4 linked regions of the Homo sapiens genome follow. The protein of the gene in region 2 interacts with the protein of the main gene of each other region in a biochemical or structural test. Each region holds a gene or a part of one and is shown on either strand. Other genes may lie near its edges.

The links.
Region 1: the proteins of EWSR1 (region 2) and POU4F1 form a complex in vitro, tested with the Homo sapiens proteins (one study listed by BioGRID).
Region 3: the proteins of EWSR1 (region 2) and ELK1 form a complex in vitro, tested with the Homo sapiens proteins (one study listed by BioGRID).
Region 4: the proteins of EWSR1 (region 2) and PRMT8 form a complex in vitro, tested with the Homo sapiens proteins (one study listed by BioGRID).

Annotation. Positions count from the first base shown.
Region 1 is NC_000013.11:78,600,553-78,608,008, reverse strand, and holds the start of POU4F1 (POU domain, class 4, transcription factor 1), read left to right. Parts: upstream 1-4,456; 5' UTR 4,457-4,682; coding exon 4,683-4,805; intron 4,806-4,854; exon of another isoform or gene 4,855-5,457; coding exon 5,458-6,594; 3' UTR 6,595-7,456. UniProt on the Homo sapiens protein: Multifunctional transcription factor with different regions mediating its different effects. Acts by binding (via its C-terminal domain) to sequences related to the consensus octamer motif 5'-ATGCAAAT-3' in the regulatory regions of its target genes.
Region 2 is NC_000022.11:29,292,246-29,299,272, forward strand, and holds part of EWSR1 (RNA-binding protein EWS), read left to right. Parts: intron 1-242; coding exon 243-361; intron 362-3,993; coding exon 3,994-4,123; intron 4,124-5,581; coding exon 5,582-5,704; intron 5,705-6,487; coding exon 6,488-6,650; intron 6,651-6,949; coding exon of another isoform or gene 6,950-6,988; coding exon 6,989-7,027. UniProt on the Homo sapiens protein: Binds to ssRNA containing the consensus sequence 5'-AGGUAA-3'. Might normally function as a transcriptional repressor. EWS-fusion-proteins (EFPS) may play a role in the tumorigenic process.
Region 3 is NC_000023.11:47,635,021-47,640,590, reverse strand, and holds the end of ELK1 (ETS domain-containing protein Elk-1), read left to right. Parts: intron 1-1,252; coding exon 1,253-1,696; intron 1,697-2,408; coding exon 2,409-2,840; intron 2,841-3,476; coding exon 3,477-3,578; intron 3,579-3,663; coding exon 3,664-3,762; 3' UTR 3,763-5,070; downstream 5,071-5,570. UniProt on the Homo sapiens protein: Transcription factor that binds to purine-rich DNA sequences. Forms a ternary complex with SRF and the ETS and SRF motifs of the serum response element (SRE) on the promoter region of immediate early genes such as FOS and IER2.
Region 4 is NC_000012.12:3,564,191-3,571,217, forward strand, and holds part of PRMT8 (protein arginine N-methyltransferase 8), read left to right. Parts: intron 1-4,515; coding exon 4,516-4,658; intron 4,659-5,243; coding exon of another isoform or gene 5,244-5,286; coding exon 5,287-5,374; intron 5,375-7,027. UniProt on the Homo sapiens protein: S-adenosyl-L-methionine-dependent and membrane-associated arginine methyltransferase that can both catalyze the formation of omega-N monomethylarginine (MMA) and asymmetrical dimethylarginine (aDMA) in proteins such as NIFK, myelin basic protein, histone H4, H2A and H2A/H2B dimer.

The sequences.
Region 1 (7,456 bases), on a different chromosome or scaffold from region 2:
AAGCAGAAAGGGAGGACGACGGTCTCCGGGAAATCTCCGAGCCTAAGCGACCCGGAACGTGGCCCGGAGAACTCCAACCTCAGCTCTGGGCTGGGTCCCGCGGGCCTCGGAGGGCAGGCCACTGCCCGGGATGGCCCCCAGTGAGGCCAGCGAGGAGCCCAGTAGCTATCGCCTGGGAGGTAGCGGACCAAGATGCGCGACACTGGGATCAAAGCAGCTCAGGCATGACCCTGGGAAGGCGGCCCAGAGGGGAAGCGAAAGTTCCACCGTCCTTTCTCCATTCCTTCCTCCATTCCACCCTTCAGTGTCAGAGCCCAGGGCGCCGGGACAGCCCAAGGGCAGCCCCTGTTCTGAGACCCGAAGATCTTACCCATATCCTGCTCCCCTGCTGTCTGCCCTTTCACATGTGCTTAAAACAACCTAAGTGGCCTCTAAAGCCAGCCGACCCTGGGCCCTGGGGGCTTCTCCTGCATGCAGGGCGCTGGCTGCGTGGTGAAATGTGCCTCCTTTCAAACTAAACAATTGCCTACGCACAATGTAGCTCCCCGAGTCTGCGAGAAACACAGCTCCGGCTTCGGCCACCAGAACCCAAGGTGGCCGGGCCTGCAAGTGGGGCCCGGTTTCCAGAAGGAGCGAGGGGCCCGGCCCCCCTCCCCTGTATACCCACTACCGCCACGCACTTATGTCGAAGTCCCTCAGACCCGATCCTGAGTCCCTAAACCCCAACAGACAACTCGGGTTCAACCCCTCGGAGGTGAGAAGGTGGGGCGAGTAGTGGCTGCGGAGTCAAATACTAACTTTCTCCGCACCCGGTCGGAAGGAGGATGTCAGTGCCCAGGTGGGCAGCAGCTATCAGGCGCGCTCTCCAAAAGTGGAGGATGGGAAGTTGGCGGTTCAGGTCAAAGGTGAGGAGCGTTCACCCCAGACAGTGCGGATCCTGGCACAAAACCTCTCCCGCCAGTCCTCACGCCAACCAACGAAGGTCTGCTCCCTTAGGTCGGGAAAAGGGCGCTGCCAAAGGAAACGGGAAGTGAGGCCTGCCAAAGGAGGAGGAGAAAATTAATTAATGAGGGAAAGAAATGTGTCTCTGATCCACATGATAGACTCCCTGTCCCTGGGGGCGGAAATTCCTTGGAAATCAATAGTTGTGCATTCATTATCCTTCTCTTGATAAAATGCAAAGCTATGAGATGAGGAGGAGGAGGAGATCTGTGTTGGTCATTAAATAAGAAGGAAAAAAAATTGCCCAGGAATCTATGCCAAGGCTCAGACCCCATGTGGGTATCATTAGCACAGGCAGGGGCCAACGAGTTACAGCAGTTGCCAAACCAGGAAAACAAAACAGTGACATATGGGTGAGCTGAGCCCAAGCCCACCACCTTTTCCTTTTACGCATCAGGAGGAAAGTAGGGAGAGGCTTGATATGGTCCAGGGAACTGCCTGCAGATGTGCCAGCATGCCCTATTCTTTAGCCTGGGCTGAGAACCAACGAGGATGAGGCATGATAACTGTCCAAGCATCACCCGCTCCATATTTCTATACACATCCCTCTCATCACACCTGTTATACCTGTGTCATAGATGCCTTTTATCCGTGGCTTCCCCACGCACATACACTGTCACCTCCTGCAGGGCAGGTACTCATATTGTATACCTCATTTTATCTCCAGTGTCTTGTACTGGGCCAGACTACCGCTCAGCAAGAATTTGAGGAAGGAAGATAAGGTAGCAAGTTAATGAGGGCGGAGTGAAATAATTGGCTCCTGAAAAAGAACAGGCTGGAATAAAAATTTACAGCTCTGCCTGGGGAAAACACACCCCTCCTTTTTAAGGAGAATGTAGACCCCCCCATCCCCCCACCCAGGGATCTTCCTGCAATCTCCAACCAGCCCTGGATTGTTGAACAGCCCCTAGGCCACCACCCCTCCCCCAGGCTACCCGAAACTGGCCTCTCTTCCTTCCTACACACGTGTTTTTTGGTGGGGTACTTTTCCTGTGACAAACTCTGCACTAAGTGCTATAGTGAAGATGGATGTATCCTAGATGGGCTTCCTATCCATGGTGGGAGGGGGAGGGAGGATTGTACCCATAGCCCTCATGTTTCTGGTCCCATCAAAACACCCAATACCCCAAGCAAAGATCTGGCCTCACCCCAAGGTGGGGTATTCCTGTTGTCGAAAGAGAGGTGAACAGGGAAGGAAATCTTGGTGGGACTAACTCCTAACTTCAGGCTAAGGTGGCATCTCTCCGCTGGGTTTAATGGAAGCCTCCCAGGGTTGGAGGGTGAACCGAGGTGCCTTTTGGGTACTCAGGAGCTCACCTGGCTCTCAGAGGCCCCACCCGGCCGCAAACCTGTACTGTTTACCTTTCTGTTGCTCCTGTACCCTTCAGGGTCCCTAAAGACCAGCGCTTCCTTGAGAGGGGAGGGGCAGGTTCCAGGCCCTCACCCTCTGTGGGGGCCTTTTCTTTCCCGTCAAGAGAGAGCGCAGGGAACGGCCACCAGGGGTGTCAGGAAGGACTAGGTTAAGCCCGGACTCCCGGTGTGATGACTACCGTAGGACTCACTCTTTCCCTCTAGCGACGTCCTGCTCATCGTCCACTCCCCGTTGAGATAAAGTTGCATTTAGCGCTCCCAGGGGACTGCGTAATGGATGGAACCAGCTCCTTCTCTCACCAGCAAGTGAACATCCTTCTCACTTCCCTCTGGAGCTAGAAGGAAGGGAGGGGGTGGGGGGGAACATGAAAAGAAAGAAAGAAAAAGCCATGGTGACGCCTGTGGGCTCTTCTTGGAATCTGAGTAGGTGAGTGGGTATGCTAAACACACATGCATTTGTGCAGAGGAAAGATAAAATCCACGGGAACGCAAATTTAGGTTTATAGAAATGAGATCTGCTCTTTGGTGGAAATACAGACTTCCTTGGTGTGGGAGAGAACAGAAAGATTATCTGATTTCTGCTTTCCATAAGCAGCCCCTTGCTGCTCTCCAGCTCTCTTACCGCAGATGTGATAACATCTGGGCTGTTAGGTTATTATCACCGCGAGCAAGTGCTCCTTCCCTGGGGACTTTGGCACCTGAACTGTGGCTCCCCTGGGAGGCTCTTGATCTGCTACCACATAAGGGCCATATAACAGGTTGGCTAATTGATTTATTCTTTTTAGGTCTTAATTTCACAATAATTTTTTAAAAATTTAAAAACTGGACCAGAGCTTGTCCCCGTTCTTTCAAATTGGCTTGATTTAATATTTTTGAATCAAGCTTTCCTGTAAGTTAGTTTGATCTGTCTCCTATTGAAAAAAATATATATAAGCAGGCAGAGATATGAGGCAAAAAGCCAAAAAGATGGAAGGGAAAAGAAAGTTCTCTTTTCAACATCTTATTCCCTTTTCTCTGAAGCAGTTTTCCTGGAGTTCCCAGCATAAAGTGTGTGTGTGTGTGTGTGTGTGTGTGTGTGTGTGTGTACGCTGAGGGGAGGAAGGATCCCAACTACACCCTGTTAACTGTTTTTTCCTTTTGATTACTAGAAGCCTTAGATCACCCGGAGCTCGTTTGAAACGTGGGTTTGTACACGGTTGAAGGAGACAAACAATAAGAGAAATGCACAATTTCATTTCAACAGCTTTTCCCGAGTAGAAAGCACACGCTCCTTGTGGCTCCTAAGTGGCTGTCACTGGCGGTGCCTGACACAGTTATATTCACAACAACAACAAAAAAGTATGCGGAGGAAATTAAATTATATGGAAATCAATAGCGTCTGACTGCTTCAAACAAATGTCTGTCACCGCGATTATTCTCCAGGAACCTATTTATAAACCTTTAAAGAAACAGGTTCTTGCAGCAAAAGACAGCACCTTCTGCATTTCTGTGTTGTTATTTATACTGTATACAGAGGAATGCGCGGGCATAATTTAACGTAGAAATGTCCAGCTGTATACATTATACAACAGCTTGTTAGGCATCCCGAAGAGGAGGAATGCCTAAGTAATGCTCATATATTCAAGGCTTGCTATCAGGGAGAAGAAACATACACACATACACACACACGCACGCACACACACACACACACACACACATAGAGGGGCGTGCGCGCATCTCGTCTTTTTTATTCTAAAAGGTGCCCACCCTTAGACAATAGCTGGACCTTCTGATCTTTCCAGACCACGGTGGGAAAGGTGAGGCGGGCAGTGCGCATGCCCGGGTAGCTACAGGTGCATCACCTGCGCTGTCCTTGCTGGTGGTCACTATAAGAGCGGCTCCCACGCGCTGGTCGCGGCCGGACGAGCGCGCGCGCGCGCAGACGCACGGGGCCGCCGAGAAGGAGAGCGCGCGTCAGACAGACGGAGACAGCTGATGCCTGTCAGCGCGGTGGGGCCGCGAGCTCTCGCGAGAGCTCCCCGGGACGGCCGCGAGAAGTGGGGCTCAGGTGTTAGAGGAGTGCATCCCGTCGGCGCGCGGGGCTAGAGCTGTCGGAGAAGCGGGACCGCGAGGCCGGCGCGCGGCGCTCTGCGCGGTCAGAGGGAGCGCCTGGCAGCAGCAGGAGCAGCAGCAGCAGCCCGCGGCGGGGCCGCCGCCAGCCGCCGCGACCGCCGCGGCTGCAGCCTCCGAAGGGAGGCCGGGTGAGCCGGCGTACGCACTTTCCCGCGGACTTTCGGAGTGTTTGTGGATATACATGCCAAGCCGCCACGATGATGTCCATGAACAGCAAGCAGCCTCACTTTGCCATGCATCCCACCCTCCCTGAGCACAAGTACCCGTCGCTGCACTCCAGCTCCGAGGCCATCCGGCGGGCCTGCCTGCCCACGCCGCCGGTAAGCGCCCCACGCCCGCGGCCCCGGCCCGCGCGCCCGCCCCTCCCCGTCTCCGAAACGCTGCATGTCGGGGGCTGGTGTGTGCAGGTCCCGGTGCGGGGAACTGCGGGCAGGGGGTGTAGAGCAGTCCCGCAGCGAGGCACGTTTTGTCCGGCGGCCCTTAATGTCGTGTTCCTGTCTGCCTCTGCCTCCGCGTCAGGCGCCTGCGATCGGAGTAGGGAGCGCTGGGGCCAGGACTCTCGACTTCCCTCTACTTTCTCTGTTAATTTCACGCCTCAGAAAGGCAGTCTCTGTGCGTGCTCGGGTGTGTGACACGGGTCCCCAGCTGCGAGTTACATTTCCATTTCTTCTTTTCCCTCTTTTTCGTCTCCCACGCCCGTTTCCGGAATGTGTTCTTGTGTCCCCCTTTCTCCCTACTTCTGTCCCCCTCTCCACGCTCCCATCCCTTCTCGTCTGCCCCCTCCCTGGTCGTCAATGTGCCCCCTCTCCGTCTTTCCCGCTCTCCACTGCCCCCAAACCCGTTGTTATTTTGGTTGCTTTGTGTTTGCCCTTCGCATGCTGTGCTTTCCGGCCTGTGTGTGTGTTTCTTCTGTTGTTTTGTTTTGCTCTTTTGGTTTTGTGGTTTTTTTGGTTTGGTTTGTGTCGCCTGCAGCTGCAGAGCAACCTCTTCGCCAGCCTGGACGAGACGCTGCTGGCGCGGGCCGAGGCGCTGGCGGCCGTGGACATCGCCGTGTCCCAGGGCAAGAGCCATCCTTTCAAGCCGGACGCCACGTACCACACGATGAACAGCGTGCCGTGCACGTCCACTTCCACGGTGCCTCTGGCGCACCACCACCACCACCACCACCACCACCAGGCGCTCGAACCCGGCGATCTGCTGGACCACATCTCCTCGCCGTCGCTCGCGCTCATGGCCGGCGCGGGCGGCGCGGGCGCGGCGGCCGGCGGCGGCGGCGCCCACGACGGCCCGGGGGGCGGTGGCGGCCCGGGCGGCGGCGGCGGCCCGGGCGGCGGCCCCGGGGGAGGCGGCGGTGGCGGCCCGGGGGGCGGCGGCGGCGGCCCGGGCGGCGGGCTCCTGGGCGGCTCCGCGCACCCTCACCCGCATATGCACAGCCTGGGCCACCTGTCGCACCCCGCGGCGGCGGCCGCCATGAACATGCCGTCCGGGCTGCCGCACCCCGGGCTGGTGGCGGCGGCGGCGCACCACGGCGCGGCAGCGGCAGCGGCGGCGGCGGCGGCCGGGCAGGTGGCAGCGGCATCGGCGGCGGCGGCCGTGGTGGGCGCAGCGGGCCTGGCGTCCATCTGCGACTCGGACACGGACCCGCGCGAGCTCGAGGCGTTCGCGGAGCGCTTCAAGCAGCGGCGCATCAAGCTGGGCGTGACGCAGGCCGACGTGGGCTCGGCGCTGGCCAACCTCAAGATCCCGGGCGTGGGCTCACTCAGCCAGAGCACCATCTGCAGGTTCGAGTCGCTCACGCTCTCGCACAACAACATGATCGCGCTCAAGCCCATCCTGCAGGCGTGGCTCGAGGAGGCCGAGGGCGCCCAGCGCGAGAAAATGAACAAGCCTGAGCTCTTCAACGGCGGCGAGAAGAAGCGCAAGCGGACTTCCATCGCCGCGCCCGAGAAGCGCTCCCTCGAGGCCTACTTCGCCGTGCAGCCCCGGCCCTCGTCCGAGAAGATCGCCGCCATCGCCGAGAAACTGGACCTCAAAAAGAACGTGGTGCGGGTGTGGTTTTGCAACCAGAGACAGAAGCAGAAGCGGATGAAATTCTCTGCCACTTACTGAGGGGGCTGGGAGGTGTCGGGCGGGACAGAATGGGGAGCTGAGGAGGCATTTTTGGGGGGCTTTCCTCTGCTTGCCTCCCCTCGGATTTGGAGTGTCCGTTATCCTGCCTGCATTTGGGGAGTCCCTTCTCGCTCTCTTTCCTCCACCCATTCTCTGATTTTCCTGCCTTTGCTGTCCCCTAGCCTTGAGGACTGGGGTGCTGGGTGTGGGGATTGGAGTATAGGGTAGGGGAGAAGGGGGGGAGCATTCGGGGGAGTGGGGAGTGGGGGGAAGGAAAGCGGAGACCCGAGCAGGGGTTTTAAGGAGCAGGATGGTTCTGGGGTTTGGGTGGGGGGAGACGCGGGAAGGGTAGGAAAATGGACTGTTTCTGACCAGAGACACTTACCTAAATATCCTGGGGACCAAGGAACTATGTACAAAAACAAACCTACCAACCACCAAAAACTAGACAAATAAAGACAAACTAAAACAAAACAGAACAAAAGCAAAGGAAAATGCTTTAGAAATTTTAACTCCGGGGAGCCATAATCTGCAACTTCATTTTCCCCCATAGAAGAGAAAAAAGAGCACCACCATTATTACCACCTCCCCAACCCTACACGCACGAACTGAGTCGAAAAACGAAAACCAAACGAGCGAGAAGTTGAAGTTCTGGGTATCAAAGCTAGTTGTTCTGTCTGCGTGTTTAATTTTTCCCTCTCTCACCTCCACCCCATCCATATCCTCTTTATTTCCTCCGTTCCAATGAGAGGCCTATGGCTGCTCTCCAATCCCGGGAAGTGAGTGGGAGCACAGCTGAAAAGAGAGGGTCAGGGGGAGGCTGGCTGCTTGCTTAGGTGGAATCCAAGTTTTCCCGTGGCCC
Region 2 (7,027 bases):
TCAGCAGCCTTATAGACCAGTGTGATATTCTTGCTGTCAAGGACAGTTTGGGAAATCCTATGTGAGCATCTACTCATAATTGCCTTAAGTGAAGTAAACCAAAAGTTTGATAGCATTCTTCTTAGTATGCTTGGTAGTTTTCTTAGATTTATGATGAATATCCTTGGGCAGTAGTGATCAGGTAGTTAAGAAACCCCTATAGATACATGATAATAATTCTCCTGTCTTGTTGTCTCTGAAAGGCCCACCTGTAGATCCAGATGAAGACTCTGACAACAGTGCAATTTATGTACAAGGATTAAATGACAGTGTGACTCTAGATGATCTGGCAGACTTCTTTAAGCAGTGTGGGGTTGTTAAGGTCAGTAAAAGCATAACCAGGTCATCTGGCAGAACTTTAAACCACAGAGCATTTTAAAGAGATTGAATTGATGTTGAGAGTTGTTTTCTAAGGTTGCCTTTGCCTGACTTCTTTCTAGGTATCTTATGGTTTGTTCCTTTTTAAAAAAGATTAGCCTTTTTTTTTTTTTTTTTTTGAGACGGAGTTTCCTTCTTGGTGCCCAGGCTGGAGTGCAATGGCGCAAGTCTTGGCTCACTGCAACCTCTGTTCAAGCGAATCTCCTGCCTCAGCCTCCCAAGTAGCTGGGATTACAGGTGTGCGCCACCAGCTAATTGTGTCTTTTTAGTAAAGATGGGGTTTCACCGTGTTGGGCAGGCGGGTCTCAAACTCCTGACCTCAGGTGATCTGCCCACCTTGGCGCCTCCCAAAGTGCTGGGATTACAGGTGTGATCCCCTACGCCCGGCCTTCCCTCCTCCACCCCTAGGGACAGAGTGTTGCTCAATCTCAGCCTCCCAGGTTCAAGTGATTCTCCCACCACAGCCTCTTGAGGTAGCTGGACTTATAGGCACATGCCACCACACCCAACTAATTTTTATATTTTTAGTGGAGATGGATTTTTGCCTGTTGGCCGGGCTGGTCTCTAACTCCTGGCCACCTCAAGTGGCCACCTACCTCAGCCTCCCAAATTGCTGGGATTACAAGCATGAGCCACTACACCCAACCTCAAATTATTGTGTCTTTATGCTAATTCTTCATAGCTAGTAACGCAGATTTTTTCTTCAGGGATTTTGACTGTTTTTCAGTTCTTGCTCTTCTGTATTAGAGTTAGTTTATGAACCCCATAAACCTCAAAACCTTAAAACCCCAATTGAATATTTACTAAATCTATGAAGTAATTTCAGGAGAATTTACATTTTTATGATACTGAGTGATCTTTTTTTCCCCATGAAGATTTTATTTCTCCATTTATTTGTATATTTATTTGCTTATTTATTTACTGAGACAGTCTTGCTGTGTCACCAGGCTGGAGTGCAGTGGCACGATCTCGGCTCACTGCAGCCTCTGGCTCCTGGGTTCAAGCGATTGTCCTGCCTCAGCCTCCTGAGTAGCTAGGATTACAGGTGCCCGCCACCACACCCAGCTAATTTTTGTATTTTTAGTAGAGATGGGGTTTGGTGAAACCATGTTGGTCAGGCTGGTCTTGAACTCCTGACCTCAGGTGATCTGCCGCCTCAACTCCCAAAGTTTTGTGATTGCAGACATGAGCCACTGTGCCTGGCCTGTCTCTATTTGTTATTTTATTTTACTTTGAGACAGAGTCTCACTCCTTCACCCGGCTGGATTGCAGTGGCGCAGTCTTGGTTTACTGTAACCTCTGCCTCCCGGGTCTCCTTGCCTCAGCCTCCCGAGTAGCTGGAATTACAGGCGCCTGCCAGCACCCCTGGCTAATTTTTGTAAGTAGAGATGGGATTTCACCAGGTTGGTCAGGCTGGTCTTGAACTTCTGACCTCACGTGATCCACCCACCTAGGCCTCCCAAAGTGCTGTGATTACAGGTGTGAGCCACCACACCCAGCCTATTTAGATCTTCAGTAAAGACTATCGATTTCCTTAAAGGTCTTGCAAATTTTACTAGTTTTACTTCTAGGTTTCGTTTATTTTCAAGTTGCTGTGGTTAAGGGTCTTCGTTAAATGACACTTTTCTGGTTATTACTGGTGTATAGAAATACAGTTGATTTGGCCGGGCGCGGTAGCTCACGCCTGTAATCCTAGCACTTTGGGAGGCCGAGGCGGGTGGATCACGAGGTCAGGAGATCGAGACCATCCTGGCTAACACGATGAAACCCCGTCTCTACTATAAATACAAAAAATTAGCCAGGCTTGGTGGCGGGCACCTGTAGTCCCAGCTACTCGGAGGCTGAGGCGGGAGAATGGCATGAACCTGGGAGGCGGAGCTTGCAGTGAGCTGAGATGGCGCCACTGCATTCCAGCCTGGGTGACTGAGTGAGACTCCGCCTCAAAAAAAAAAAAAAAATACAGTTGATTTTGGGCGGGCGTGGTGGCTCATGCCTGTAATCCCGGCACTATGGGAGGCCGAGGTGGGTGGATCACGAAGTCAAGAGATCGAGACCATCCTGGCCAACGTGGTGAAACCCCGTATCTACTAAAAATACAGAAATTAGCCGGGTGTGGTGACACGCGCCTGTAGTTGAGCTACTTGGGAGTCTGAGGCAGGAGAATCAGTTGATCCCAGGATGCAGAGGTTGCAGTGAGCTGAGATGGCGCCACTGCACTCCAGCCTGGCGACAGAGCAAGACTCCATCTCAAAAAAAAAAAGGAAATACAGTTGATTTTGGTAAATCTTATATAAGGTGATTTCTCCCTGCTTGTAGGTGTGTGTGTGCACAGATATCACACACACCTCAAAAGTAAAATGCTTTTAGTGTCTACTGTCACATTCTACCCTGTGCAAGACTCCTTGTTTGCTTTTTTGTTTTGAGATGGAGTCTTGCTCTGTTGCCCAGACTGGAGTGCAGTGGCACAATTTCAGCTCACTGCAACCTCCGCCTCCTGGGTTCAAGCCTCAAGCCTCTTGAGTAGCTGGGAGTACAGGCTTGAGCATATTAAAAAGACTGCTTTTTAATATGTATATAACATGTAGTTTATTGAGGAATGTGGAGTTTATCCTGGTTAAGAAAGTAGTATTTACCATCAAAATTTTGGAAATAAAGATGTTAAAATAGATTTCCAAGCTGGATACAGTGGCTCACATGTGTAATCCCAGCACTTTGGGAGGCCAAGGCAGGAGGATCCCAAGGATTGCTTGAGCCCAGGAGTTTGAGACCAGCCTGGACAACAGAGTGAGACTCTGTCTCACAAAAAAGAAAAAAATGCATTTCCACATTATTCATACCACAGTTTTGCCATATTTTCTTTTCAGTTTTTAGGTATCACGTTCCTTTTTTTAAGTCAGAGGTATCAATATATATATCCTGTTGTAATCTTTTTTAAGTCCTATAAATAGATTGCTCTTGTGTTACTGGATATATGTAAACAATTACAGACTAAACTGATCGTGTGCATATATAATGCAAAAAAGTACACGTGAAGATATTCTTATACAAGGTAGCTCCTGAATTCAAGTCAACCACATCTGATATTCAGCTGAAAGACTAGTCATCTGTTCTAACTGGAGGAAGTAGTGGCTGTGTTAGACTAACCAAGAATCCCTGTAGTTCACTCACAGCCTGTACACTGTCCTTCACGGTTTAAGGATAATTTTCTTTATGCCAGTCATGTCTTATGTGGTGGTATCAAAGTCTGACTACCCCTACGAGGTGGCTGTGCTCAGTGGATACCTGTCTGGGCATAGAAAATGCCAGGGCAGGCAAACCAGCATCAGAAGATGGCTAAGGCAGGAGTGGGGCCTATCCTGTTCACTTCCACACTTTGGTCTACTTTGGTTTTTATGATAAAGCAGGGATAGAGGAGAAAATAACTTAGAATTCTGAAAAACTTAAAAGCGGAGAAACGGTGACATTTAGTGACTTACTACATGTGAGAAATTGGTACTTTTCCTGGATTTTGCCTGGACTTTTTTCTCCCAAATTAGTATATTCTAGTCATGCCTAACTATGCTATTCTTTGTCTAGATGAACAAGAGAACTGGGCAACCCATGATCCACATCTACCTGGACAAGGAAACAGGAAAGCCCAAAGGCGATGCCACAGTGTCCTATGAAGACCCACCCACTGCCAAGGCTGCCGTGGAATGGTTTGATGGTGAGATGTACTCACTGGCATTCTTAATCTCCCTGGCTATAGAATATGGCATGAGGGAGAAACTTGTGAACCATAGGAGCAAGAAGACCTTCCATCTCTTCCTGGGGGAGGTAGATGGCCGGTCTCCCTGCAGTAGTAGTAGCACCCAGCCATTGACCCTGGATTTGGAGATCCCTTTATTTTGAGGCATTAGTATTACAAATCAACCTTGCTTAAAGTGGCAAACACTTCCTAAGCACAGATTATCAGAAGGTACAGAAAACCCTTCAAAAGAACATCTTAGCCAGTGTACATTTGCATATAGATAAATATATATATTTAAATGAGGCCTTGACATTAATGGTGGGATTTCACTTCAGACAAAACCAACTTGAAAGCATTGAATGACTTGGCCATGTCCAGTGGCTTGCACCTGTAATCCCAGCACTTTGGGAGGCCAACATCGGTGCATTGCTTGAATCCAGGGGCTTGAGACCAGCCTGGGGAACATGGCAAAACCCTGTCTCTACAAAAAAAATACAAAAATTAGCCAGGTGTTGTGGCACACTCCTATACCTATAGTACCAGCCACTCAGGAGGCTGAGGTGGGAGGATCACTTGAGCCCGGAGAGTTTGAAGCTCCAGTGAGCTGAGATTGCACCACTGCACTCCAACCTGGGCAACGGAGCAAGACTCTGTCTCAAAGAAAGTGTCAAATAACAAGTCCTGGTTCTGTTTTCTTGGTCATGCAGTCAGCTTCCCACCAGCTTATTTTCCTCCTTATGGTAGACAGTGTTTTTTGCTTGTGTTGTTTTTTTTGAGATGGTCTCACTTTGTCACCCAGGCTGGAGTGCAGTGACACAAGCCATCTCAGCTTACTGCAACCTCCACCTCCCAGGTTCAAGCCAATCTTGTGCGTCAGCCACTCGAGTAGCTGCTGGACTACAGGCGCATGTCACCACGCTGAGCCTAACTTTTGTATTTTTTAGTAGAGATGGGGTTTCACCATGTTGGTCAGGCTGTAGGAAGGTTTTTAAGTGTATTTAAGTATGGCCTTTTTCTGGCCAGGCACAGTGGCTCTTGCCTATAATCCTACCACTTCAGGAGGCCAAGGCAGGAGGATTGTTTGAACCAAGGAGTTCACTAGCAGCCTGGGCAACCTAGTGAGACACTGCCTCTACAAACAATTTTGTAAAATTAGTCGGGCATGGTGATGCGTGCCTGTAGTCCCAGCTACTTGGGAGGATTGCTTGAGCAAGTGAGATTGAAACTGCAGTGAGCTGTGCCACTGCACTCCAGCCCGGGCAACAGAGTGAGACTCCCATCTCAAAAAAAGCCTTTTTCTGGCCTTGTCATTAAAGATCTTAGAGAAGATTACAGGCAGACCTAATGCATCTGGGAGTGGTCATTTGATGATGATGTGGAGTTGGTGAACAGGGAGTACAGGGGAGTAATTGATGTTCTGTTGTCTTGTTCCAGGGAAAGATTTTCAAGGGAGCAAACTTAAAGTCTCCCTTGCTCGGAAGAAGCCTCCAATGAACAGTATGCGGGGTGGTCTGCCACCCCGTGAGGGCAGAGGCATGCCACCACCACTCCGTGGAGGTACTTTTTCTGAGCTCCTATGTTGCATTAAAAGGTTTTCAGTACACTTCATACCCTTGAGAAACTTGATTATTAGAGTGAAGAAATATAAAATTGTGTGTAGAGTCAATACTAGACTATCGAGAGCTAACAATGAATGTTTGTTGGGAATAAAAGGAAGAGAAGAACATGGGAGGCTGGAAGCCACTCTGCCTGTCAACTCCAGACTGCCATTTATTCAGCTTTGGTTGTGTCTGTATAGACATGCCTATTCCTTACAGAATTGTGGGAGTTCAGCCAGGTGCAGTGGCTCACGCCTGTAATCCCAGCACTTTGGGAGGCTGAGGTGGGCGGATCACCTGAGGTCAGGAGTTTAAGACCAGCCTGGCCAACGTGGTGAAACTCCCTCTCTACTAAAAATACAAAAATTAGCCGGGTATGGTGGTGCATGCCTGTAATCCCAGCTACTCGGGAGGCTGAGGCAGGAGAATTGTTTGAATCTGGGGGGGTGGAGGTTGCAGTGAGCAAAGATCGTGCCACTGCACTCCAGCCTGGGCAACAGTGTGAGACTCCGTCTCCAAAAAAAAAAAAAAAAAATTGTGGGAGCTCTGTTTCTGTAGAGCACGTGGAACACGCTCCTCACAGGGAAGGGGGCTGATGGCCTGAGCCACACGGAAACACGGGACAGGTGATGGGGAAATGACAGCAGTAGTATCTGTGGGTTTACTTAGTGATTTTTATTTCCTATAGCAAATTTGGTGCTACAGAGAAATGATTTGCTGTTTCTTGTTGTTCTTGTTGTAGGTCCAGGAGGCCCAGGAGGTCCTGGGGGACCCATGGGTCGCATGGGAGGCCGTGGAGGAGATAGAGGAGGCTTCCCTCCAAGAGGACCCCGGGGTTCCCGAGGGAACCCCTCTGGAGGAGGAAACGTCCAGCACCGAGCTGGAGACTGGCAGTGTCCCAATCCGTATGTACTTGTCTTGGCAAATTGATACCCTACGAGTGAAGCCACCCTTCCCTCACCCCATCCCCACTCTAGAGTGGATTGCTCTGTCTAGAGGAACAGAATGATGACCCTGATGGCTGGTTAGGGACACTAGTCAGCCATTCACTGGACGCTTCAGAGCCTTCTGAAGATTGATTTGACCTGTCCTGTGGGTGCAATGCTGCCTGAGGCTGTGCCCTAAAGCATGGGTGTACATAGATCCTCTTGATAGTGAGTGTGTACCTGTTCACACACCACCTTTCCTTGTTTATCTTCCTTAGTTCAATTGGTGATTTCTGCTGTGATGTAATTGTATGCAGGGGTTGTGGAAACCAGAACTTCGCCTGGAGAACAGAGTG
Region 3 (5,570 bases), on a different chromosome or scaffold from region 2:
TCATTATCTTATTCCTACAGCTAAAATTTAAAATTTCCCCCATCCTGCCCTCTCAGACCCCCAGGCCACTGCTGGGTTTCTCCTCCCCCCAATATTTATACCAGTTATTTCATTTTCTTAATCCTTCTACTGAAATTTCCCAAACAATATTCATGAATATCCCTTTTTATTCCTCTTCCGAGAAACACAGGCCCACCCTGTGACATATCTGACCAGCACTAAGACTTCCACAGAATGCCCTAGTGCCTCCACACTCCCAGAACTGCCCTGGTCATATGCTGCACACCCTTCATAGTTTATGGCATTTATTCCATTTTCATATTTTATTCCTTGAGCTCAACCCTCCAGAACAATATTAGTAATGAGGCTATCTCACTCTGCCCTCTGGGAACACTAGGTCATCTCTGAGACCCACCAGACCTGAAAAACCCCAAACATGCTCTGTGACCCAGCAAAGCCAGCCTTGATATAGGCCCCCTCCCAATATTTATACCAGTATTTTTAATATTCTTGTCTAATTGCTGTTAGTTACTTCATTTTCTTACCATTTTAGCTTCAACCTCCACAGTGGTATTAATAATGAGGCCTCCTCACCCTCTCCTCTGCAGTGACCTTGCCCTGTTCCACTTCTGTATCATTAGCTTCAAATAATCCTCTGTATTAATAATTCATCACCCCATCCATCTACATTAATTTACTTTCTTCCAACATTTATATCAGTTACTTCATTTTCTTGTCTTATTGCATTTGCTAGTCTCCAAAACTGTGTCCTGACAGTCACCCACAAGGCCTGGCCCTGTGAACCTCTGGTTCTTGGAGCCAGGAAGAAGACCTGCTCCCACACCTACTGCCCTTCATGGGCCCCATTGTGAAGAGGAGCTACAGTGTGGAGGGAGTGGGAAAATCAGATAGACGGACCTGGAGAGTGACAAAGGGAGGCTTGGAAAGGGGTGGATGGGAAGGGGCTTAAAGAAAAAATTATTGTGGAGAGAAGAGAGAAAGGGGAGGAACTGGGGAGGGATATAGATAAGGGGAATCTGGCGGGAGAGGAAAGAGGTAGAAACCAATGGGAGAGGAAATGGGCTGAGAGAGAAACTTACAGAGGAGGGACGGGAAAGCCGGAGAGGAGCAAGTGGGAAGAAAGCCACTAGGAGAAGAGAAATGCCACTCCACCCCCCTCCTCCCCCCTGACACCCTGCCTCCAGCCTGCCCCTTTCCTCTAAGGCCCTCTGTTCCTCTCCTCCCTTCCTAGAACATCATCCGCAAGGTGAGCGGCCAGAAGTTCGTCTACAAGTTTGTGTCCTACCCTGAGGTCGCAGGGTGCTCCACTGAGGACTGCCCGCCCCAGCCAGAGGTGTCTGTTACCTCCACCATGCCAAATGTGGCCCCTGCTGCTATACATGCCGCCCCAGGGGACACTGTCTCTGGAAAGCCAGGCACACCCAAGGGTGCAGGAATGGCAGGCCCAGGCGGTTTGGCACGCAGCAGCCGGAACGAGTACATGCGCTCGGGCCTCTATTCCACCTTCACCATCCAGTCTCTGCAGCCGCAGCCACCCCCTCATCCTCGGCCTGCTGTGGTGCTCCCCAGTGCAGCTCCTGCAGGGGCAGCAGCGCCCCCCTCGGGGAGCAGGAGCACCAGTCCAAGCCCCTTGGAGGCCTGTCTGGAGGCTGAAGAGGCCGGCTTGCCTCTGCAGGTAAGGACTGGAATATAGAAATTCAGTAAGAGGAGGCAGTAAAGAGGAGGGATGTGTAATCCCCGGATGACGAGGGAGGCTGGTAGAAGAGACATAGCTGTCCCGTTAAAGGAGATAATGGTGGAAGGAAGACATCCTCTTAGAAGGAGGGGTGGGGCAGAGAGCTACACAAATCCTGAGACAGAAAGGGGAGAATACTGTGCTACAGTTAGTAGCTGCCGAACATGTAGGTGCCTGGAATATGTTTAATGCACTGGTTCTCGCACTCTAGTGCTCATCAGAATCACCTGTAGGTCTTGTTAAACCACAGATTGCCAGGCACACCCCCAGAGTTTCTGAATTTGTGGGGCTGGGGAGGGGCCCAATAATTTGCATTTTTAACTTGTTACCAAATGAGGCAGATATTGCTGGTCCAGAGGAAGGTAAATTTTTGAGAACCACTGTTTTAATGAATGAGGATGGTATCCCTCAGATTCCTACCCGCTTCAGGTTGTCTCACCCCAAGTCCCCTGTCCCATAGGAGGACCTGCCCCAGAGGAAGCCCTACTTCCTTGACGAAGTCCTATGTCCTGTTGGAGGACTTGCTCTGATGTGCAGTCATGCCCTGAGTACCAAGTGCCACCTTCCCGGGGAAATCACTGGGTGGCCCACAGGAGAATCCTGTGGTCCCAACAATCCTTACACACCCTCTTTGTGCCTGCTCCTCTACCAGGTCATCCTGACCCCGCCCGAGGCCCCAAACCTGAAATCGGAAGAGCTTAATGTGGAGCCGGGTTTGGGCCGGGCTTTGCCCCCAGAAGTGAAAGTAGAAGGGCCCAAGGAAGAGTTGGAAGTTGCGGGGGAGAGAGGGTTTGTGCCAGAAACCACCAAGGCCGAGCCAGAAGTCCCTCCACAGGAGGGCGTGCCAGCCCGGCTGCCCGCGGTTGTTATGGACACCGCAGGGCAGGCGGGCGGCCATGCGGCTTCCAGCCCTGAGATCTCCCAGCCGCAGAAGGGCCGGAAGCCCCGGGACCTAGAGCTTCCACTCAGCCCGAGCCTGCTAGGTGGGCCGGGACCCGAACGGACCCCAGGATCGGGAAGTGGCTCCGGCCTCCAGGCTCCGGGGCCGGCGCTGACCCCATCCCTGCTTCCTACGCATACATTGGTGAGTGCCTGCGGAGGGGTGGGGTGTGTGGGCGCCAGCACCAATGGGATTGGCATGTGGCGGGTGACTGACAGGAATCAGAGGAGGGTGAGTGTGGTTGTTCCTGAAGAGGGTGGAGCCTTTGAGTGTGATTGACTGGGCTGATGCTGGCTGGAGGGATGGGGTTTGATTAGTGAAGGGCAGGGCTGGGGACTTTTGTGGGTGGGACCGAGGGTCTTTCTGTGGGACTGTTTCTAGGTTGGGGTGTGGCTTAAGGAACCTGAGCAGGGCTTTTTGGTCTGGGATGTGCATATGGGGTTTCATGGGTGGGACATGAGTTGGAAGTTGACCCTGAGCTGTTGGGATGGTGACTTGAGAGGTTTGAGAGCAGCATTTGGATAGGGTCTTGTGGGTGGTCTTGACCAATGAGGTCTCAGCAACTGAGGGTGGGCTCTCGGGAGTGGGGAGTGGGGGGTGTCTGCAGAGTTTGAGAGATCATAGGCATGGCCTCCATGGTTACCATCTAGGTGTGTGCACTTTGGGGAGTGACCCTGGGAGTGTGAGTGGGAAATCTGTGGTGGGGCCGGGACCAAGTCCCTTCCAGCATCCCACATCTACTTTCTACTCACTTGAGCTCCGACCACCCTCTCCCCACAGACCCCGGTGCTGCTGACACCCAGCTCGCTGCCTCCTAGCATTCACTTCTGGAGCACCCTGAGTCCCATTGCGCCCCGTAGCCCGGCCAAGCTCTCCTTCCAGGTAGGATCCTCTTTCCCCGTTTTGGACAGGGTGAGAGACCCAAGAATGGCCCCCATCTGTGACCTCTCCCTCTTTTTGCCCCCAGTTTCCATCCAGTGGCAGCGCCCAGGTGCACATCCCTTCTATCAGCGTGGATGGCCTCTCGACCCCCGTGGTGCTCTCCCCAGGGCCCCAGAAGCCATGACTACTACCACCACCACCACCACCCCTTCTGGGGTCACTCCATCCATGCTCTCTCCAGCCAGCCATCTCAAGGAGAAACATAGTTCAACTGAAAGACTCATGCTCTGATTGTGGTGGGGTGGGGATCCTTGGGAAGAATTACTCCCAAGAGTAACTCTCATTATCTCCTCCACAGAAAACACACAGCTTCCACAACTTCTCTGTTTTCTGTCAGTCCCCCAGTGGCCGCCCTTACACGTCTCCTACTTCAATGGTAGGGGCGGTTTATTTATTTATTTTTTGAAGGCCACTGGGAGGAGCCTGACCTAACCTTTTAGGGTGGTTAGGACATCTCCCCCACCTCCCCACTTTTTTCCCCAAGACAAGACAATCGAGGTCTGGCTTGAGAACGACCTTTCTTTCTTTATTTCTCAGCCTGCCCTTGGGGAGATGAGGGAGCCCTGTCTGCGTTTTTGGATGTGAGTAGAAGAGTTAGTTTGTTTTGTTTTATTATTCCTGGCCATACTCAGGGGTCCAGGAAGAATTTGTACCATTTAATGGGTTGGGAGTCTTGGCCAAGGAAGAATCACACCCTTGGAATAGAAATTTCCACCTCCCCAACCTTTCTCTCAGACAGCTTATCCTTTTCAACCAACTTTTTGGCCAGGGAGGAATGTCCCTTTTGTTCTTCCCCCTGAGAAGCCATTCCTTTGTCTGCCAACCTCCCTGGGGTCCTGCCTGTTTCCTCCCAATGGAGGGTTTTTTTGGGGGGTGGTCCCCGTCTGGGGGGCCCCTCCAGCCAGTACTCCAGGTCTCCCTGTCTCTCCCCCGCTGCCATTTTGATAGTATAATCTATTTTTAAATGGGGCTTTTCAATAGGGGAGAGGGAGTCATCTCTTCCTATATTTGGTGGGGTGGGTGGGAAGGAAGGGATTTGGGGGGGAATCTTCCTGCCGCCTCCCCCACTCCAAGTGTTTATTTTTGATACCAAACATGAATTTTCAGTTCCCTCCCTCCCAGCCCCCCAATTTCCTGCGGGCGGGTACAAAGGACCCTTTCAATGTCCCTGGAGTTGGGAGGGAGGAATGGGGGACATAAAGCCTGTCCTGTCTCTATTCTAGGCAAGAGAGAGTGGGTTCAAAAGACTCCTGGGCTCACCTGTTAGCGCTGGCCCAGCCCAGGCCTTGGGACCTGGGGGTTGGTGATTTGGGGGACAGTGCTACACTCGTCTCCACTGTTTGTTTTACTTCCCCAAAATGGACCTTTTTTTTTTCTAAAGAGTCCCAGAGAATGGGGAATTGTTCCTGTAAATATATATTTTTCAAAGTGATGCTGGAGGCTGCTGGCACTTTTTCTCTGATGTTGTCAGGACTAGCTGAGCGTGACACGCATGACTGTGTGTGGAGGGTGTGAGGCAGAGGTCGATTGTGAGAGAAACGGTGTGATGGCGTGTGTGAGAAACAATAGTAGGGACTGCATATCGGTAACCATGTGTGTGTCAGAGACGTGGAAAGCTGTGATTGTGTGTGAGAGTGTGCAGAAGTTGTGACCACAGACTTTTGATGGTGTGTCTATGTGGGAAATTGTGGCTGTGTTTCAGAAAATAACTGAGCCTGGATGAATAGTCAAGGTACTGTACAAGAACCTGTGATGGTATGCACAAAATAATGTCTACGAGAAGGGAACGGGGACTGCAGCCCTGTCACTGTTTGATGGCGAGCAAGACAGACTGGGTGACCAAAACCACATGTGAGAGACTACGTGGGCATGAAACTACAGTAGAGGTTGTCAGGGATTGTGGCAAAGATTGTGTAGGTGACAAACCTCACT
Region 4 (7,027 bases), on a different chromosome or scaffold from region 2:
GGGGTTGGCAGGGGGGTCAGGGGGCTTCATAGGCTCATAATATGTTCCCATGCCTGTGACCCTCATGCCTCCTCTTGTGTGGCACAGGACCTGCTCTCTGAAAGAGTGAGGACCTAAAAATGATCACTAACTTCAGATCCTACGGGCATCAGCTGACCCTGATGGATGCACTGGAGGCTCAAATGAGGTTGAGCTGGCCTGATTTGTTTAAAAACAAAAATGACCATTAATGAGAATGACTAGATTTCTGTAAGAACCACTCAAACCAAAAAGAAAAAATTCCACTCAAAACCATTTTTAAAAATCTGGATGTCTCACTTACAAACTTGAAGCTACAGGAGAAGTTTTCCCAATTTAGAGTCTATTGCTCCCTGCTGTGCATTTAGTTCTGATTAATCATTCTGTAATTTACCAGCCAGAGTCCTGTCATAGTTCGTTGAACAAACTTTCCATCATCCTTCTGGAATAAAAACATGGATCCGGACGGTGACCTCAGTGCAACCTTGAGTTGATGCAGTTTTAGTGACTTGGGGTCCAGATTGGGCATGGAGCTCTGCAGCCTACGGCTGCTCGGAATCTTAATATCAATAGCTTAGACCCCCTTGAAAATCCTTTGCATGGAGGAGAAGGGAAGACTGCTGCTGTGTGTGCCCACACACTTCCTTGAGCCAGCCTAATGCCCTATGTTGGCCAATAGCCCCTAGTAAGTTGGCATATGCCCCACCATGACAGGTAGCATTTTGTAGATTGGAAAATTGAATCTGGAAGTTTAAGTGGTTGCTGGTGGTGACTACAGACTGCAGGAAGAATATTCATGGTGATTCAGCTGGACAGTTGTATTTGGCTGCACAGAAAGAATGTGACCTCTTAAAAATAAAAAATAAAAGGACCCAGGAAGTGTTGAAAATGACAGTCAAACTGGAACTTGGAGGCACCATCTTTTTTTATTGATGCCAGCTGTCTCCACCAGTGAATCTTGCAGAATGCCTTACACATAACAAGTGCTCAGTACACATTTGAAGAACCGCAGCTTTCTGGCACTGCAAAGAATTTCAGATTCAACCTCCCTTCTTTTTTTTTTTCCTAATGAGGAAAATAAAAGAGAGGAGATGTTTGATTGAGATTAGCTGTCACCTGGAACAAGAGCGTAAGTTGCTGCCTTTTAGGATTCCAGCATAAAGTTGTGCAGGTTGAGCACAAAAGCACCGGAGAAAGGGGATAAATGGAGTCTAAAAGCCAGTCCAGCACTGGATTGAAGGGAGATGGGTCCTTTTCCTTTGACAAAGGGCTCATCTCCTCACCAAGCCAACTGTGGGGCCATGTCCACACTGAGAAATGTCTGCACTTGAATAGATGTAGAAGGGTGATGTTAAGAGAACAGAAGTCCAGACTGTTGAGGATTTTATAGGGTTAACTGATTCCTTCTGCCTTTTTGCAAGCAGAGATTGTGATTTTTGCTATTCTGTGACCCCCTATATCTAGCTATCATCTATCTGTCTTCTATATCGTCTGTCTATCTATCAATCATCTCTTGTAATCCATATTGATGAGGTTACAGCAACTAATTGATAAGAGGGCTAACACAGAGAACATGAGCAGCAGTAACTCTCTTTGGGGGACACCTGAGGAATATTTCATACATACCTGTTTGTTAGACTTGATGATGGATTACTCCTTGTCTGTTTCCTGCAGCTCCTAATAGAGTCCTGTCCACAAAAATTGTCATGGGTGGAGCCTTGTACTAAACACTCAGGGTAGAGGTCATGAGGCCCCGGAGGCAGGAGAAAACATCTTCTAGGGCTACAGAGAGGTCATGATATAAATGCAGGAGGAGGAACTGACCCATAGCCACACAGACACAGGCAGACATTAGGGAAGAACCTTCAAGAAACGTGCAAAGAAAAAAAAGTAAGGGAGGCCATTAAAGACAATTTTTAAGTTTACAAAACTAAGGCAAGCCAGGCTTTGCATGCAAATGATTAGGCAGGTGAGTCATGCATATATTTGTCAGTTCTCTTTCAAAATAAGAAATAAATTAGGCACAATGTTTGCATTTTAAAAAATCCTTTACTTTGCCACTCTATGAATTTTCTTAGTGCACCCTGGGCCCTGCTCTCAGTTGAGTTCCTGCCCTGGGGTCTCTGAGACCCAGAGAAACTTCAACACCTACCCCTCCCACTCCCACCAAAACTTTTGGAGAATAGCTCTTCCTGCTCATACTTTTTAATGGTAGGGGCTTTTGAGCAGTAACCAGTCAGGAGGGCCACCCAAGACTGAACCTCACTGTAGAGTGACCAGGGTCAATGCATGTGTACAAAGTGTCTTACTCCTTGTAGAGCAGGCTGTATCCAATTAAAGCTTGATTAAATACCACATAGTGGAGAGTAAACTGTTATTAGAAGCTGCTAATGGACACTCCATCACCTGCATTATTCACTGTGAAGAAACTAAATAAAGCCAGCAAACGGTGTGCTCTTTGCCATCCAGGAGCCTCAGTCCAAATTAATTTTCATGAAACTCAGATTCTAGGCAGATGTGGTTCTTTTGATTTTTACTCCTAAGTACAGGCCATTGTTTGTTTTTCCCAGCAAAGCTCAGGCATTGTGTGAGTTTTTTTCAGAGGATATTGCAGAATGAGAGTTTCAGAGCATGAATATATGTAACCTTTCAAAGGAAATGTTCAGAAAGAACAAACCAACCAATACATCAGCCTGCCAATTTAACAGTGGTATCTAAACTAGCTTGCTCAGATCTTTACAGCAACAAATACAAAAAGGGACTCCAAAATTATGTGTATGTCTATGTCAGTTTATCAAAAACTCAACTAAGAAGTGTCTCCTCCCACAGAGGAAACTGAAGTTCTTGAAGGTGACTCATAAGAAGAAGCCACTGGGGACAGGGGCTTTGACCCTGGCCCTATCTGCTTCCCCTCTCCATCTGTGGATCAACAAGCAGGAATATGTCAGATAATGTCCACCTTCTGTTGAGCTTTAGCTATGGGCCTGGCACTCCACATGTGTTATTTCATTTGATCAATACAATCACCCTCTAAATTGATATTGCTTTTCATGGTTGTTCACTTGGGAATTGGAGTTTAGTTAGGTCAAGTAACTTGTCTAAAGTCGTACAGCTAATGGTGAGAAGATCTGGCACTTAAACCTAGGTTTCCCTGACTGCAGAGCCCATGCTCTCATCAAAATATCAATTTCCTCCCTCACAAACACTAGAAGGGCACCCATTTGGTATTGAGCCTGGCTGTGAACAAATGCAAAAGCAATAGAGGAGGCATCTATGCTTTCTTTGAGTTTGAATTGTCATGGTAACCTAACATAGGGGTGGGGGCCTTGAGAAGAGTTTTAGAGTCATGTCATATCAGATCTGGGCTCTGTTTCCACTGCTGCTACTCAACCTCTCTAAGCCTCGGTTTCCTTAGTTGTAAACAAAAATAACAGTTGACCCCGACTACCACAGGGGTTAGGGGTGCCAATCCCCCACACAGTTGAAAATCCAAGCATAATTTTTGACTCCCACAAAAGTAAGCTACTATCAGCCTACTGTTGACCAGCAGTCTTGCTGATAACTTGGTCAATTAACACACATTGGCTGGCTGTGGTGGCTCATGCCTGTAATCCCAGCACTTTGGGAGGCCGAGGCGGGTAGATCACCTGAGGTCAGGAGTTTGAGACCACTCTGGCCAACATGGTGAAACCCCGTCTCTACTAAAAATACAAAATTAGCCGGGCGTGGTGGCACATGCCTGTAATCCCAGCTACTTGGAGGCTGAGGCAGGAGAATCGCTTGAACCTGGGAGGCGGAGGTTGTGGTGAGCAGAGATCACGCCACTGCACTCCAGCCTGGGCAACAAGAGTGAAACTCCGTCTCAAAAAAAAAAAAAAAATTAACACATATCTGGTATATGTATTATATACTATATTCTTACCATAAAGTAATCCAGAGAAAAGGAAATTGTTAAGAAAATCCTAAGGAAGAGGAAATATATTTACCACTCACTGAGTGGAGTGGATCAGCATGAAGGTCTCTGTCCTCATTGCCTTCACATGGAATAGGCTGAGGAGGAGGGAGAGGAAGGGCTGGCCTTGCTGTCTCAGGGGTGGCTGGAAGAGGTGGAAGGGGAGGCAGGCACACTTGGTGTAAATAAAAAAAAAAAATCTGCGTGTTCGTGGACCTGTGCAGTTCAAAGCCAGGTTGTTAAGGGTCAGTTGTAATGTGCTTACCTCACAGGGCTGTTGGAAGGATGACGTGATACCACGCATATAACGGGCTTAGCGCTATGCCAGGCACATAGTAATGGCTCAATTTATTTTACAGGGAAAACATGCAGGTAGTTTTCAATTATGTTGGTATAAACTAGTTTGGTAAAGGGTGAGCTACATCATATCCTAAAAGTAGAATCAGAATAGGGCTGAAACCTGGAGATCTGGCCCTGAAGTGAGGTGCTTGTGGTTCCTGGGTGGGGTCCCTGCAAAGTATGGCCCTGGGGTTCTTATTTTCCAGTCATCACCATATTTAAGGGTAAAGTGGAAGAGGTGGAGCTGCCTGTGGAGAAGGTGGACATCATCATCAGCGAGTGGATGGGCTACTGTCTGTTCTATGAGTCCATGCTCAACACGGTGATCTTTGCCAGGGACAAGTGGCTGGTAAGTGTCCTGCATGCTGTCCCCGCGTTGGCCGGCTGGCTGTCCTGCTCCTCTACCCAAGGCCTGCAGCCTAGGAGGCATACGAAGACTTCAGAGAAGACTGAGGCCAGGAGGTCACTGCCCCAAGCCCCTCTCTCTAGAGCAGATCTGTATCAGGGAACAGAATGGTTGCCCCGGGTCCAGCATGTGTAACCATCAGAGTGGACTTCCGTGGGTCTCACCGCAGCCTCTTTTGCAATAACAGACATCCGTTCTCTCTTGTCGAGTTAAAGGTCCGTTTCGGTCAGCAAGTACTTAGGACTTGCATGGCTGCCAGAGCCAGGTGTGCTATTCATCTGGGCTTCTCCAGGCCAAAGTCGTAACATCTCTCACTGCTCCTCACTGGATTTACCTTCACCTCACCTCATTTGTCCTATTGACTCCACCTAGGTCCCTTAAATTTTCCTTGCTCCAAAATAAAAATTGAGCACTGCTGTCCTAGCCCTCACCCCAGACAAGGTGACAGTCCACTGCATGAGAGATGGTGGCAAGGGGGTGCTTGTCTGGTGACTCTATGTGCAGTTCAAAATGTGATGTCTTTGTCAGGTGAATAGATTACGAGACCCATTTCCCCACAATTCATCAACAGAAACCTGGAGGGCTTATGTTTCCAGACCGGGCAGCTTTGTACGTGGTAGCGATTGAAGACAGACAGTACAAGGACTTCAAAATCCACTGTAAGTCCCCTCTTGCTTCTCCGGTGGACTTCCACTGCACAATTGGGGTGGGAGGCACTCCAGTGGGCCCGAGATGAGCAGGCAGTGACATGAACACCATTGCTGTCCCTGAAGAGGAGCTTATCTGGGACCCTTTCTGGAGTCTGCTCTCTAAATGTTTCTATCTAGTCCCAAGGGTGTTAGGTCTACAGACAGAAAATAAGCCATATGGCTGGGATGAGAGAAATGTCCTGGGGTGAAAGAATGAATGCAATGTGAATTAAAAATTGGACTGAGGCAGCAGAAGCTGAGTTTTTGCAGAGATCAGCAGGGCAAGTGGCTTGAAACCTGTCAAGGTTCAGTTAGCCCAAAAGTCCACCGCAGGGGTCTGAAGTAGCAGGTCTCTTGCCAGGCCAATTGTTTTGAATCCTGCCTCCATTCCATTCAAACTTATCAAAATAATATTGATTCTCTTATGCAAATACATATTATTTGAGGTTCTTTTGAGGAATAGATAGCAGAGGGGGTGGGAAAGAGTGGAGATTTTGCTTTGAACAATCAAACGAAAGGCGAGTGTGCATGTGTGCATGAGGCAGGGGCTCGTATCTAAACATGTATTCTTAATGCCTTATCAGCTAGGCGTGTGTGGTTCTCTGAGAACAATAAAGCCAAAAAACTTCTCCTCCCCCGCAATGTTTTACCTGGTCTGAAAAGGGCTGTTATCCTATTTCTCGTAAAGGGTGACACTTCTCTGTGACACAGGCCTGATCCTTAATGAGATTATACCAAACATGTTTTTGTAAAGTTGAACATGGCTGTGTCTCCTCAACCAGAACCAAATACAACAAAGGAGCAAAGAACCCCTCAAACAGGCAAACACCCAAAAATCCAAATTAAAGCAAGAGGCAGAAGCTCCAACCTATCCATCAGACTGGGCACATCTGCGGTTCCTGCCCCAACAGGGTGGTCCATTCCTACTTGGCAAGATTACTGTGGAGGGGTTCACAGATTGAGTAGAAGAATAAATGCCTCCAAGAGGCTAAGACTCCATCCACAGTTCAACAAATTGTGGCTCTGTGGATTTAAACAATTGCCATCTAATCGTCGTTAGTGGCACTGATGAAAACTCGGCTGGACTCTGCTATGGATGTGTGTATTTGTGTGGGTTCATGCCTTTCTGGAAATATAAACTCAAAGTGTGAAGTTCAGAGCCAGGTTCAGAAGAAGACAAAAGTGGGACAGCTGTTTGAAGCTCTGTGCCCTGGAAACCGTCTCTGGTTGCTGTCTGCCTCCAGCCAATCTGGTGTGATTTCCACTATTTGACCTCCTGGGGGAAGGAGGCAAAATACCAAATGAGGACAGTGAGAGGCAGGGGGGCCCAGGTTAAATGCTTTGCACACTGCCAGCCCTGGGTTTAAATCTTGGCTTTGCCATGTCCTAACTGGGTAACCTTGAGCAAATTATCTAATACCTTTGGGCCTCAGTTAAGGGATAATTTTCTCAATCCCACAGACTTGTCATGAGGATTAAGTGAGATGACATATATTAAAGGACGTGACAGTTCTTGGTCCTATAATGGGACTAGATGGGAACTAGTTTCTGACTGTGTAGCTAAGCCCCTTTCTGCCCCTGGCTCTGGCAAGTGAGCCTGACTGCCAAGCCCCTGGTGGCTCA